Linked DNA regions of Homo sapiens. The protein of the gene in region 2 purifies or fractionates together with the protein of the main gene of each other region. This does not show direct contact. Each region holds a gene or a part of one and is shown on either strand. Other genes may lie near its edges.

Evidence for each region. Proteins that work in one complex are often made in the same cells at the same time.
Region 1: the proteins of CDHR5 (region 2) and ODR4 purify together in Homo sapiens (affinity purification with mass spectrometry; one large-scale study listed by BioGRID and IntAct). This does not show direct contact.
Region 3: the proteins of CDHR5 (region 2) and XPO7 purify together in Homo sapiens (affinity purification with mass spectrometry; 2 studies listed by BioGRID and IntAct, with this or other methods). This does not show direct contact.
Region 4: the proteins of CDHR5 (region 2) and LEMD3 purify together in Homo sapiens (affinity purification with mass spectrometry; 2 studies listed by BioGRID and IntAct, with this or other methods). This does not show direct contact.

The regions. Positions count from the first base shown.
Region 1 is NC_000001.11:186,385,838-186,389,337, reverse strand, and holds part of ODR4 (protein odr-4 homolog), read right to left. Parts: intron 3,351-3,500; coding exon 3,255-3,350; intron 897-3,254; coding exon 790-896; intron 1-789. UniProt on the Homo sapiens protein: May play a role in the trafficking of a subset of G-protein coupled receptors.
Region 2 is NC_000011.10:619,020-621,955, reverse strand, and holds part of CDHR5 (cadherin-related family member 5 isoform 1 precursor), read left to right. Parts: intron 1-51; coding exon 52-144; intron 145-292; coding exon 293-394; intron 395-500; coding exon 501-611; intron 612-705; coding exon 706-876; intron 877-1,569; coding exon 1,570-1,660; intron 1,661-1,791; coding exon 1,792-1,889; intron 1,890-2,074; coding exon 2,075-2,275; intron 2,276-2,368; coding exon 2,369-2,482; intron 2,483-2,565; coding exon 2,566-2,650; intron 2,651-2,775; coding exon 2,776-2,936. UniProt on the Homo sapiens protein: Intermicrovillar adhesion molecule that forms, via its extracellular domain, calcium-dependent heterophilic complexes with CDHR2 on adjacent microvilli. Thereby, controls the packing of microvilli at the apical membrane of epithelial cells.
Region 3 is NC_000008.11:22,003,162-22,006,661, reverse strand, and holds the end of XPO7 (exportin-7), read right to left. Parts: intron 3,444-3,500; coding exon 3,345-3,443; intron 2,760-3,344; coding exon 2,632-2,759; intron 1,668-2,631; coding exon 1,574-1,667; 3' UTR 77-1,573; downstream 1-76.
Region 4 is NC_000012.12:65,242,583-65,245,718, reverse strand, and holds part of LEMD3 (inner nuclear membrane protein Man1), read right to left. Parts: intron 2,332-3,136; coding exon 2,250-2,331; intron 51-2,249; coding exon 1-50.

The sequences.
Region 1 (3,500 bases), on a different chromosome or scaffold from region 2:
TCCCGCTAATTGCAATAAATAGAATCAAAGCACTCGTGAGATTCTTCTCAAATATACACTCTCCATAAGAAAAAGTACCACTGTTTTATATGAGGTCAAACCTGAGACTATTTATTGGATTAAAGGGCTTGTATATGAAACTTTGCAGTTAAATACTAAAGATTTTTTTTGTTGTTGTTAAAAAAAAAAAAAGCCCTGCTTCTGCAGGAATGGTCACTTTTAAAATTCTGTCTTTGGAAGTCCATGGATCGTGTCACTCCTTTGGTGAGGATGACCCTTGCTTGGGAGGTACTCTTGCCCTGGTAAGAGGCCGTGTAACTGGCTTTTAGTGTCATTTCATCTTAGCCAAAGACATAAGAATTTCTCCGATGTCCTATACCATCCAGCTCTGTGCACCTGTGCTTTGAATTGTACATCCTTATCTATAGAAACTGGAGGTGAAAACTTTAACATAATAAAAACATTACTTTGCCTAAGCCATCAGTTAGGCATTTATCTCTGTAGGGAATCTGCTGTGCTTGGATGTACAGGGCAGATAGCTGGTAAAAAATTCAGAATCCTGAGTCTTTCATATTACAGATCTCAAGCTTTTTATCACCTTGGGACATGATTAACAACCATTATTGCTATTATTATTATTGGTGGCTCTAATTCCATGTTATTTACAGAAAAATCTTACAAAACTATGCCTATTTTTTAAATGATGATTTAAATAAATAGCAAAAAAACCTTGCAAGAATATTATTTTGGTACTTTGTACTTTTAAACCATAAACTGAACAAAAGATACTTTTTTGTAGAAGCACAAATGTGAAGTGTCACTCGTTCTGAGACTTCCTCCTCTGTGAAATTCCACAATCTCTTTCTATTTATAGACTTTTCCACAGCAAACATTAGCTGAAAGAGAGAAAAATACACACTAATTGAATGTAAAATGAAAAAAAAAGATGAGTGTTGAAATAGGCAATTATAATGTCCCCAACTCTCATTTAGCTTTAAAATTCCATGATTCTTTATTTATTGGAGAAGGGGTCTCACTATGTTGCTCAAGCTGGCCTTGAACACCTGGGCTCAAGTGATTCTCTCACCTCAGCTTCCCAAGTAACTGGGACTACAGGTGTGTGCCACCATTAATTTTTCTTTTCTTCAAATTAAAGACTGGAGCTAATTACTAACATTTTTGAATTCCTTTTAGGAAATTACAGAAAAATTGGGTTTAAATAAAAAAATTTAATTCACTATCATTAGAGATTAACTGGACACAAAAAATTAATTTGGGGCAACTAGAATTTATATAAACTATAGAACAGAGACTTTAATTAGAATGAGAAATGATAAGTGATTTTAACTAAAGAAATCAAGCATGTCACCCATTTAGCATTTCTTATTTAAACGTCACACAAGACTTAAGGCAATATATAACAACATATAAAATATAGTAATAACAAATTGAAAGTTAAAGTAGAATAGTGAGATAAATTTGTGTCAGAAATAAGAATTATAAAAATGCATACTTGATGTAAGGGGTGGTAATACATTTCGGTCTAAGCTTTCTAACAATAATGTGCAGAGAGAAATCTAATCTGTAACCTAATTCACATGGTCTGTAAGCTAAAAACAATCATCAGAGGAGGCACAACCTTCTTCATAATATAAAAAGAAATTCTTCCGGAAACACAATATTAATGTAATATGATGAATAAAGTCCTTAACAATAATGGGTGACACTGACAAGTTTTATAAGGCTGTTTCTTGTAGTGTTTGTCAGTGTAGCCAGTGGAAACAATTAGATAATTGAAACTCAGTAATGTCAGAGATAAAGCATTTCTAAAGTTTTATATACTTTTTAGGAACAAAAGATACAAAAGCAAGGAAAGTGGGCCTGGCTGTATCTCTCTAGCACTGGGCCCACATTCAACCCCCTCAATTCAGCACCAGCCAAAAAAGGTTGCACAATGAATGCTATTAATATTAAATACGCATAGATTTCGGTTAAATTTCAAAATGCCAAAGAGAATGAACAATTGTAAACAAGGTAAATTTATTTAAGATGGAAAAGTTGGCAGAGGGTTAAACAATTTAGCAGGGAGGAGAATATCTCCATTTTCTTCCCTTACTCCCTTAGGTGCAAATATCAAAGGCTTGAGGCTGGGACATCTGACAGGACAGGTTACAAGACTGAAAAAATCTGTAACATCTGAAGTTCTCAGCTGTATATTTTTTACCTAAAAAATGTTTTTCTGGGATACTGTTGGGGTTGGGTTTTATATGTCTCAAGATTTTAAGGTTCCCCCTCTTTTGGGGTATGAAATACCCTTCAAAAAGTTCATGTGGATCCTGAATGCTAAAAGAGCTGGCTACACAGAATCTACCTTAGGTTTGGGTTTAAGGGAAAACAGCATGTGGACCTTCATATTTACTTTTACACTATGTTACCCAATTCTCTGGTGCAGCAATTAAGCAAAAAACACAGGAGATTTCTGATAGATACTGTGTCCAGGAATAATCTGATTGTTTATGTTTTACTCTCAGGATCTCCGGAGAATTGAGAAGAAGGTAAAGAATTTCAGCACCTATTAATTTCATGTTACAGTAATCACTAGGTACTAAATGGAAGGTGTGACAGAATACTGCTATTGCATAAGAAAAACTGTTTAAAGCATTATAATTTGTTTCCTAATAGTCAGAAATTACCTCTAAAATAAAGATTATTTTAAAATATGTAGTTTTTCTGTCAAAAAGAATTACTTCCACAAAGATGCCTTTTTTACAACAAATTATTAGATCCAAGTGACTTTGAGTTCTTAATATTATAATTAATCATTTGAATTTTTCAATATTTTACAATGAATTATTTGTTTGCATAATTTACATGGAATTACTGTCATTAGTCATGGTTATTATTGAGAAGTAAATAATTTAACTTTTTAACTTGAGGAAAGAATAGCTTTTTCAAATTTGTATGAAATGCCATATGGGCTGATGATAGCCCTGTTTTGGGTAGTGTACTAAATAAAGAATAAAATTACCCATGGAAAAAATAATAAATAAAATGTGTAGTTTTTAAAAATATAAACATTTTTTACACTCAAGATATCCAAGCAATTGAGTGACAAAAGCTTTTTCAATGTAACCCCAACAAAAAGAATTATGGAAAACAAATGTAAATATGCCTAGAATCATTACACATACTCATAATCAGTAAAAATAACATATAACTGATTTCATTAAGAATTTTCGATATATCAAACTTACTCTACGCAGGGCATTTTGAAAATCATTTGCCAGTTCTAAAGTAGTAATAATAAATACTCCAAGAACTAAAAGTCCCCCTGGTAGCATTCTGGATACCTAAAAATAGAAATATATTATTAGCTAACAAATTGGCATTATATGCAATCCTTTCTGTTTGAGAAACTGTCTGCTTAGCATGTCCTTAGCTTTTCACCTTAAAACTACTTTATAAATAAAACTATCTGATAACAACATCCTTTAGCTACA
Region 2 (2,936 bases):
ACCTCACAACGGGGAGGGGCTGTGGGAGAGGCTGACGGCCACATCCTGCAGGTGACCCAGCTAAGGGTGTTCGTGTCAGTGCTGGACGTCAATGACAATGCCCCCGAATTCCCCTTTAAGACCAAGGAGATAAGGGTGGAGGAGGTGAGGCCAGCGAAGCCGCGGGGACTGGGCACGGGGGTGTGGGAGCCCAGGGTGAGGGCAGGAGGTGAGTGGTGGCCGGGGGCTCAACCACAGTGGGGGTCCACAGGGGCCAAGAGTGTGGCCGGACCAAGCCCCTCTCCCTCCCCAGGACACGAAAGTGAACTCCACCGTCATCCCCGAGACGCAACTGCAGGCTGAGGACCGCGACAAGGACGACATTCTGTTCTACACCCTCCAGGAAATGACAGCAGTCAGTGCCGCCCACCCTGCCCCAGCACGAGCCCCTCGCCTCTGACACCCACAGCCGCCCTCGCCCTCCAAGGCTCTTAGGCTCTGTCCTCCCTGACCCTCCCCAGGGTGCCAGTGACTACTTCTCCCTGGTGAGTGTAAACCGTCCCGCCCTGAGGCTGGACCGGCCCCTGGACTTCTACGAGCGGCCGAACATGACCTTCTGGCTGCTGGTGCGGGTGAGCAGGTCACCCCAGCCCCGAGTCCCACACACTTGAGGCCCCCCGGCCCCAGCTGCTCCCAGGCCTGATCCAGCACAGCCGTCTGTTGCAGGACACTCCGGGGGAGAATGTGGAACCCAGCCACACTGCCACCGCCACACTAGTGCTGAACGTGGTGCCCGCCGACCTGCGGCCCCCGTGGTTCCTGCCCTGCACCTTCTCAGATGGCTACGTCTGCATTCAAGCTCAGTACCACGGGGCTGTCCCCACGGGGCACATACTGGTAATGGGGAGGGAGGGGCAGTGCACGGGGCAGGGCCTTCTAGGCAGGCTGGACACAGGGACGGCCAGGATCAGGAGAGGAAGGGCGGGGTCGGGGTCAGGGGGTGGGGCCGATTTCGGTCGTGATTTTGAAACAAATGCAGACTCTCCTTGTAAACCAACCCTTCCCATCTTGAGCGGTGAGGGAGCAAACCCTGAACACACAGGGAGGAGCGTGGGCCCCAGAGCCAGGCGGTCTCAGGGGCCTGGGGAGGTGGGCTGGGGCCCTGGAGCTCTTAAGGGATGCTGACATCTCTGCCCTGCTCACAGTCACCACTGGGCCCACACAGGCTGTCTGCAAACCTTCCTGGCACCAAGGCACCTGGGGCCACCAAACAGTACATGGGAGGCAGAAATGCAGACCCCGGGAGCCCCCACTTCCTAAATGTTTGCTTACCCGTCAAGACAAGCCTTGTGCAAATGGGACTCAGTATCTTTGGGCCACTGGACTCATTCATTAGTAAGGGACCCACAGGGGTGTTACTGATTGTGATGCTGGGACAAGGGACTGTCCTAGGCAGGCAGGGACGCCCGGCCACCAGCGGGACTGGGCCCCTCCTCAGCCAACCCTGCCCTTGATGGGGAGTCAGAGGGGCCAGGCTGGGGCCATCCACCCCAGCCCCACGACGTGCCCTCCCTTCCGCCATCCCTGAAGCCATCTCCCCTCGTCCTGCGTCCCGGACCCATCTACGCTGAGGACGGAGACCGCGGCATCAACCAGCCCATCATCTACAGCATCTTTAGGGGTGAGTGGGGCCCAGCCCTCAACAATGCCCTGTACCCCCTCTGTCCCTGTCTCCATCCCCACCTTGGGCAGAGCTGGCTGGGTCCCTGGGCCTCAGGGGGCCGGGGCTGAGCACTTCCATCATCCTCCCAGGAAACGTGAATGGTACATTCATCATCCACCCAGACTCGGGCAACCTCACCGTGGCCAGGAGTGTCCCCAGCCCCATGACCTTCCTTCTGCTGGTGAAGGTGAGGTGGGCACCTGCATGGGGGGCAGGGCAGAGGGGGAAGGGTGGAAGGTAGGGCGGGGGGTCAGGGCTGGGGGGCCGGGGCAGGGCCCCCGCCAAGTCTGCACCTGCCTTTCCTGAGCCCCAGCCTTCAGCGCCAGCTCCACCTTCAACCCCACTAGTCACTGCTGCCTCCCCCGCCTCCAGGGCCAACAGGCCGACCTTGCCCGCTACTCAGTGACCCAGGTCACCGTGGAGGCTGTGGCTGCGGCCGGGAGCCCGCCCCGCTTCCCCCAGAGACTGTATCGTGGCACCGTGGCGCGTGGCGCTGGAGCGGGCGTTGTGGTCAAGGATGCAGCTGCCCCTTCTCAGCCTCTGAGGATCCAGGCTCAGGACCCGGAGTTCTCGGTAGAGAGTGCATCCAAGGCCTCCCCTCTGTGGGTGGGTCAGGGCTGTACGTGGGAGGCAGCCTGGCCGGGGACTCAATGAGACCCTGTCCAGGACCTCAACTCGGCCATCACATATCGAATTACCAACCACTCACACTTCCGGATGGAGGGAGAGGTTGTGCTGACCACCACCACACTGGCACAGGCGGGAGCCTTCTACGCAGAGGTGCGGGGCAGGGCAGGCGGGCATCTCCAAGGGTGTGGGGCTTAAAGATGTGTCTAGGAGGGACAAGCCCCTTCCTGCCCCAGGTTGAGGCCCACAACACGGTGACCTCTGGCACCGCAACCACAGTCATTGAGATACAAGTTTCCGAACAGGAGCCCCCCTCCACAGGTAAGCCCCCCTCCACAGGTGAGCCCCCAGGGTTCTCCAAATAAGCCCCTTCGGTGGCTCCTTTCCCGCGGTAGGTGTGCAAGGGGCGGGCAGAGGCAAGCCCAAGCACTGTTCCCGGCCCCCAGATGTCCCCCCATCCCCAGAGGCTGGAGGAACAACTGGGCCCTGGACCAGCACCACTTCCGAGGTCCCCAGACCCCCTGAGCCCTCCCAGGGACCCTCCACGACCAGCTCTGGGGGAGGCACAGGCCCTCATCCACCCTCTGGCACAACTCTGAGGCCACCA
Region 3 (3,500 bases), on a different chromosome or scaffold from region 2:
ATGTTTCACACAGCTTCATGTGTTTTGAGTGAGACATGTCCTTGGACGCACACTGGACATGATTGCTGAAGCCAGGTCAGTAGAAACCATTGAAGTTTATTGGCGGTCACAATGCTTACACTGTATGCAGCAAACACCCTTACAAGTCTATCCGCAACCTGATCACGCAAGAAAGGATTCATCACACAGTCGCCAGAGGAGAAGGAAAAAAAATTAACAGGCTTGTTTCTGGGGGTAGAGGAAAGAAATAAAAATAAAACCTAATTGATGAGTGTCCCGTGGGCAAGAGCTGAACTAGAGATGTGTACAACTAGCAGCAACAATTGTGGAAAAAGTACAAGGCAAATAGCTGTCTCCATTAATTTTCCTCTGTAGGTTATTATTTTTTTTAATATTCAAAACATTTATTATGGTTTTCATTTTATAAAAATGTATATTTTTTAAGGGATGGGAGAATGTTAAATACTTCATGCTAGGTAGACCTTGTTATTAAGAACCCTTCCACTGTAGTAACTTCCTCCAGTTCATACATTCATGAGTGCAGGGTACATATATAAATATCCACACGCATACATCCACACACACTGCCTCGAGGGCTGGGGAAGACTAAAATTTATTGGCCACACACAGCAGGGCCTCTGGTGGACTCACCCACATTGCTCCCAGGAGAGCAGTGGGCTCACTTCCTTCTCTCTGGTCTCTGCCTTCACACAGACCAAGAACCCTACAACACGTCGTTAAATCCAACTTTTAAAAGCAAGAGGCATCTGTCTGAGGATGAGGGTAAGCAAAGTAGGAAAGAGGGTGGAGATAAGAACACCAAACACTTTTAGCTGGAGTTATTTATCACTGCAAGGGGCTAGGGACCCAGGGCAGAATCTACACGGTCCAAGGGGAGGGACGGTGTTCTGGCATGGCTTAGAGTTCCTAATAACAAGGGTTAATACAGTAACAGGAATTGATCATTTCTGGGTGAGGACAGGGCAATACGAAAAAATATACATTTGGAATTTTAGCTTTTTTTTTGCCTCTCTACTGTGTCACTAAATATATCTCTGCACTCTCACACATCCTTGTCCAGTAAAGCTTCAGGCCACCAGAATACACATTTTCTTCACTCGCATACACAACCCCTCACATCAGCATTGGTGCACTAGACTCTGTAAAAATTTTTCAGTCACACTTTTTGTTTTTAAACTTGAGTCAATATAAACCTTGTTCAAAATGTTATGAAAAAATGTACATGTTTATACAAGGCAGGTTGTGGCAGGACACTAGGGGTTCTCCCCACTTGGGTGGCCCCAGGAGGAGAGGCTGGAGTCTCAGTTTGTATCTCTTATCTCCTCCCACCACCCTTCCCACCCAGTCCCCCAGGAACCAGCAGCGCCCTGCCCCCTAGTGAGTGTACTCACACCCCTATTCCCTGGGGAAGCAGCTAGTTGACCTTTGCCATTTTCCCCACACCCCTGGAGAAAAGAGCCAGGATCAGCCAGGCCCTCTCCCTTGCAATTGTTCGCCCCTCTGGGCCAAACCAAAGGGACGCTGCTCTGTACAGGTAGAGTCCAAGGAGGTGTCAGCTCATCATGTCATTGCTATTCACGCCATAAGTGGAATTCTTCATTGAGTCGTTGACTTCTCGACGGAATGCTGACAGGTTCTGGGTGAACCTGCAGAGAGGATGCATGTGGGTTGGGGGAGGAGAGTGGGGGGGAAAGGTATTTGCCTTTTTTTTTTTTTTTTTTAAAGCATGGGAAGTAGAATGTATGAATTGATGGGTTCTGTTTCAAAGATCAGTTAATTTCAGTCTTAAGACTCTAAGAGAAAAGTTGGCTTAGAGATCTGGTCAAATCTGGGGCCCTGAGGGCTACCTTGGGCTCATGGCAGCACAAAAGAAATCTCACTGACAGAAGTAGGAAGTTGCCCTCACACGTGAGGGCAGTAAGCCAATGAAGCCATCTCATTTCTTAATGCAGCAAGACCAGGTGGTGCAGTGCTATGCTGTCCAATAGGGCGGCTGCTAACCACATATGGCTACCGTGCCCCTGAATTATGGCCAGTGTGACTGAGAACATGAATCCAAATTAAATACAATTTAACATTCAGCTCCCCAACTGCATCTTAATTTTAAATTAAAATGCCTTGTTTTAAATTAATTAAAATTAAATAAAATTTAAAAGTTAATTGCAAAGCCCAGATACTCAATGCAGTTACTGGAAAGTCCCTAGGTGTGTTTGAAACAATCTGGGTATTACAGGAATCTACTTTGTCAACTGTAAATTTATGAAATCTAAATACAGATCAAGTATTTCTGATGAAAACGTATGAACTGAGATATGCTGTTAAATGTAAAGTACACAGGATTTTGGAAATGTAGTACAAAAAGAATGTGAAAACCCACAATTTTAAAATACTGATTACACACTGATACAATATTTTAGATACAATGGGTTAAATAAAATATATTATTAAAATGAATTTTGCCTGTTTAACATGGCTCACTTTTCTATTGCATTGCATTGCTTTAGATGGCCTCCAAACACAGATGTCAAAGACTTTAAAGCAACTGCCTGTTTCGTTGATTTGAAAAATAGCAATTGTCTGAGATTTCTAGGCAGGACGCTTTATACTCACCTGTCTCTGTTTTTCGTAAGAAGATTTCGCTCGATGCCTTCCATCAGGTTCTCAAAACACAGGTGCATGGCCTGCTGCTTCTCCGGTGGCTGGCTGTTCACAATACTGTTTCTTAGGTCAGAAAAATACTGTGGGGCAAGGAGTGGAACAGAAGGTTAGAGAAGCAGGGGAAGGCAGATTAGCCCTCCGTCATCTGCAGGGTTGAAGAATGTTCTTCTCTAAGGAGGAATGGAATGTCTACTAAAATTGGACCCTTAAAAAAGAAATTCAGGCAAGCACTTGTGGGATAATATGGCTTCATCCTACTAAGAATATCAAGAATTTTTAAATTGTAAAGCACTTTAAAAGGGTCATCTTATCCAGACCTTTCTTTTACCAGAATCTCAAGACTTGTTTATAGCAGAGCTAGAACTAGAACTTAGGTCTTAGGTCCTCTGATACCCAGGTACATTATTTCCTTGAAAGGTTTCTCTTACTGCCTAGGGGAAACACTCCTTTATCCTGTGTCTGTGAGCTACCACACATGCTGACTTCTAACAGTTAAATGATTATGTGATACTGAAAGCACAAATGGGACTTGCTCAGTAAATGACCCATTTTCCCTGTTTCACCACCGTGGGGTGTTTCTATACACATTTCTCCCAGGGCTTGGTGATACCAAGTGCGTGGTTGCCACTGCTTCTGGGTTGGCACCAGGGAGCTGGCTCTCTCACCTTTTCATTAAGCAATATCAAGCCAAGTAGTGGTCGGGACATAGACCACTGGTTCCTACAGTCTTCAAAGATGATGATGTTCAGCACCGTGGACAGCATCTGAAAATGGAATGGAGAATTTCAGGCAGTGACCTAATGTATTGCTACCCAAGATAA
Region 4 (3,136 bases), on a different chromosome or scaffold from region 2:
TTTCTAAAATTGCTTCTTGAATTGCCAAATGCCACTGATCCCCTATTTCCCTAAAAGTTAATGAAAACAAAAATCAACAACCATATTCCTACTCGGTAAAAATTCTTCACTGTCTCTTACAACATATATATATTACTAGAATTGGTATAGTTTTAAAACCACATACGATTTTAATTGGTATTAAGTAAATGCTTGTTGACTAACAGGAGGTAGATTTAAAAATTACAATTCAGAAGTCTCAGCCCTCCTCCCACTTTCCAGTAAAAGAGTGCAGAGCGCTGGCCAGGCGCGGTGGCTCATGCCTGTAATCCCAGCACTTTGAGAGGCCGAGGCAGGCGGATCATGAGGTCAGGAGATCGAGACCATCCTGACTAACACGGTGAAACCCCGTCTCTACTAAAAATACAAAAAAAAAAAAAAATTAGCCAGGCGTGGTGGCAGGTGTCTGTAGTCCCAGCTACTCGGGAGGCTGAGGCAGGAGAATGGCGTGAACCTGGGAGGCAGAGCTTGCAGTGAGCCGAGATCACGCCACTGCACTCAACCCTGGGCAACAGAGTGAGACTCCGTCTCAAAAAAAAAAAAAAAAGAGTGCAGAGAGCTGAGGCAATGAAAGACTAGCCCACCGCTGCAGAATAAATGGATTGGGTCATTCCTATGTTTAAAAATCCTGTGTACTTACAGTAATTTCTGTTTTCTTTCTATTGTTAATAAGTACTTTAAATGAGTTGTGAACTTATTAAAGTTGTAAAAGTTAAATGTTAGTTATTTGAGACAGGGTCTCGCTTTGTCACCCAGGCTGGAGTGCAGTGGCGTGATCTCGGCTCACTGCAATATGTGCCTCCCAGGCTCAAACCATTCTCCCACCTCAGCCTCCCAGATAGCTGGGACTACAGGCACACACCACCAATTCTGGCTAATTTCTTTTGTATTTTTTGTAGAGACGGGGTTTTGCCACATTGCCCAGGCTGGTCTCGAACTCCTGAGTTCAAGTGATCCACCCACCTCGGCTTCCCAAAGCACTGGGATTATAGGTGTGAGCCACTGTGCCCAGCCGAATGTTATTTTCTTTAATTGTAATGATAGGTTCAAATTCCTAAAGAAAATTCTTAGTAAATACTACATTTGAGCTTCTCTTTTCCAAAATAATTGATACAGGACTAACATTTTGTACAGTCACCTTACTATAATGACAGTTTTAAGGTGTTTCTGCTGTAGTAAGGGACATTTGTCTTGCTTGTGAGACAAAGATGGCAGGAGAGAGAGGAAAGTGACTTCACTTCAAATCACAAATTTTCATCTTAGGTAATAAAATAGTGGACTTGCCAATTCCTAAGGCATGAGGTAAGATTCCCAACAGAGGTATCATCACACTACTAATTGTTTCTATCTCTGCAAAATAGAGGCGGTGTTTGTCTCTGTGTGTGTGGGGGGGGTGTGTGTGTGTGTGTGTGCGCGTGCCCACGTGCAAACACGTGTGCATACTGCTTCCTCACATTTCCAATTTTGCTGTCACTTATTTGGAATTTCATCAATGAGTGATTAGATGAGACTTTGGGGGTATTGTATACATATTGTAATTGCCACTGTTGGGACTTTTAAAACAAACAGAATTTGATCTGTACTATCACTGGATAGATAAGCAGTGCCCTCAGGAAGCTAATTCTAAGAACTATTACAGCTTATATATGAAATACTGTGAATTCTAAGGCAGTCACTTTTGACTGTGCTATTCTCTGGAAGCATATGTTGTTGGAATTATAAAGTCTGAAAAGTTCTTCAAATATTATATTGACAAGTGGAGACAGGACTTTGTAGAGAAGCAGGTATATACATCTTTGTAGGAAACTTTTTACAATTTGAGATTTGAAATTTGTAAGCAGCAGTGATTGTATCTATATTTTCTACTGAGGCAAAAATATTGACAGTCATGTATAATGACTTACACATTTAATAAAGGGTACTCTTTGTCATTGTGAGTCATTAATTTGCCTCAAGCATTTATCTATCTGCTATGACGATTCATAAGGAATACAAAGATTTATAAAAGTTTTACAAATCTTTATACATTAGTGTCCTTTGGCCAAATCTTTGCTTGGAATTTAATGAAAGAGAAAAACATAACATTTCTGTGGTAGAGATTCAGAAGAAAAACATTTTCAATTACAGACACACCATTATAAGAATATCATGCATTTTCCAGCCAAATATTCAGAATAAGAGTTACATGTACCCCTGATCATAATACTTACATAACGGGATCAAACATATTCCGAATCTTTAGACACGGTGTCAAACTATTTGGTGGTGAATTTCTTCTATCTAAATGAAATGCTACAAAAAACAAGTTAGTTTTACTATTTGACATTGTTCTAGTTTGTTGAAAGGTATTCAATCATTCAGTTCATTCAAAAAATATTCACTGCATGCTTTTACTAGGAGCCAGACCCCTGGTTAGATGTTAAGGTGAGTAAGACAGTCATTGCTATCAAAGAGTTTACAGTTTAATGGGAGAGACAGATGATAAAGAGTGTCATGTAAGAAAGTACAACTGTGATTAAGTCCTTAAAAAAAAAAGTACAAAAAGCTTTTTAAAAGTAACTTAACCTCATATGAGAAAATAAAACTTCCCTGAAAAAGTGAAATTTATGTGGGAACTGAAGAATAAAAATTAGCAGGGTGAAGAGAGGTGTGTAAAGGAAGATTTCAAGCAGAGGTGATTGCTTGTACACAGCTCCTGGGGCACGAAGGAGCAAATGTGGCTGGAGTAGAAAGAATAGAGATAAACCTACAGAAGATGTCAGATTATTTAAGATGATGTAGGCTACAAAAAAGTATTTGGGCATTATGGTAAGAGTAATAGCCACTCAACTGTTTTAAGGAGTAGAATAGGATGAGATCTGTCTTTTAAAACTACATATTTTAAAAATACATTGTTATGTGGAGACTCAGGTAAAAGCAGAAGTGAATGCAAGATGACCAGTTAGAAGGTTATTATTATATTATAGTTGTCTAAGAAGGAGAGGATAATGATGTGGGTAAGACAGGCCAACAGTGCAAGTGACAAGCGGATAGAATCAGGACATATTATGGAGTAGATATGACATGACCTGTTGAAAGGTTGGACAAAGAGGGATAA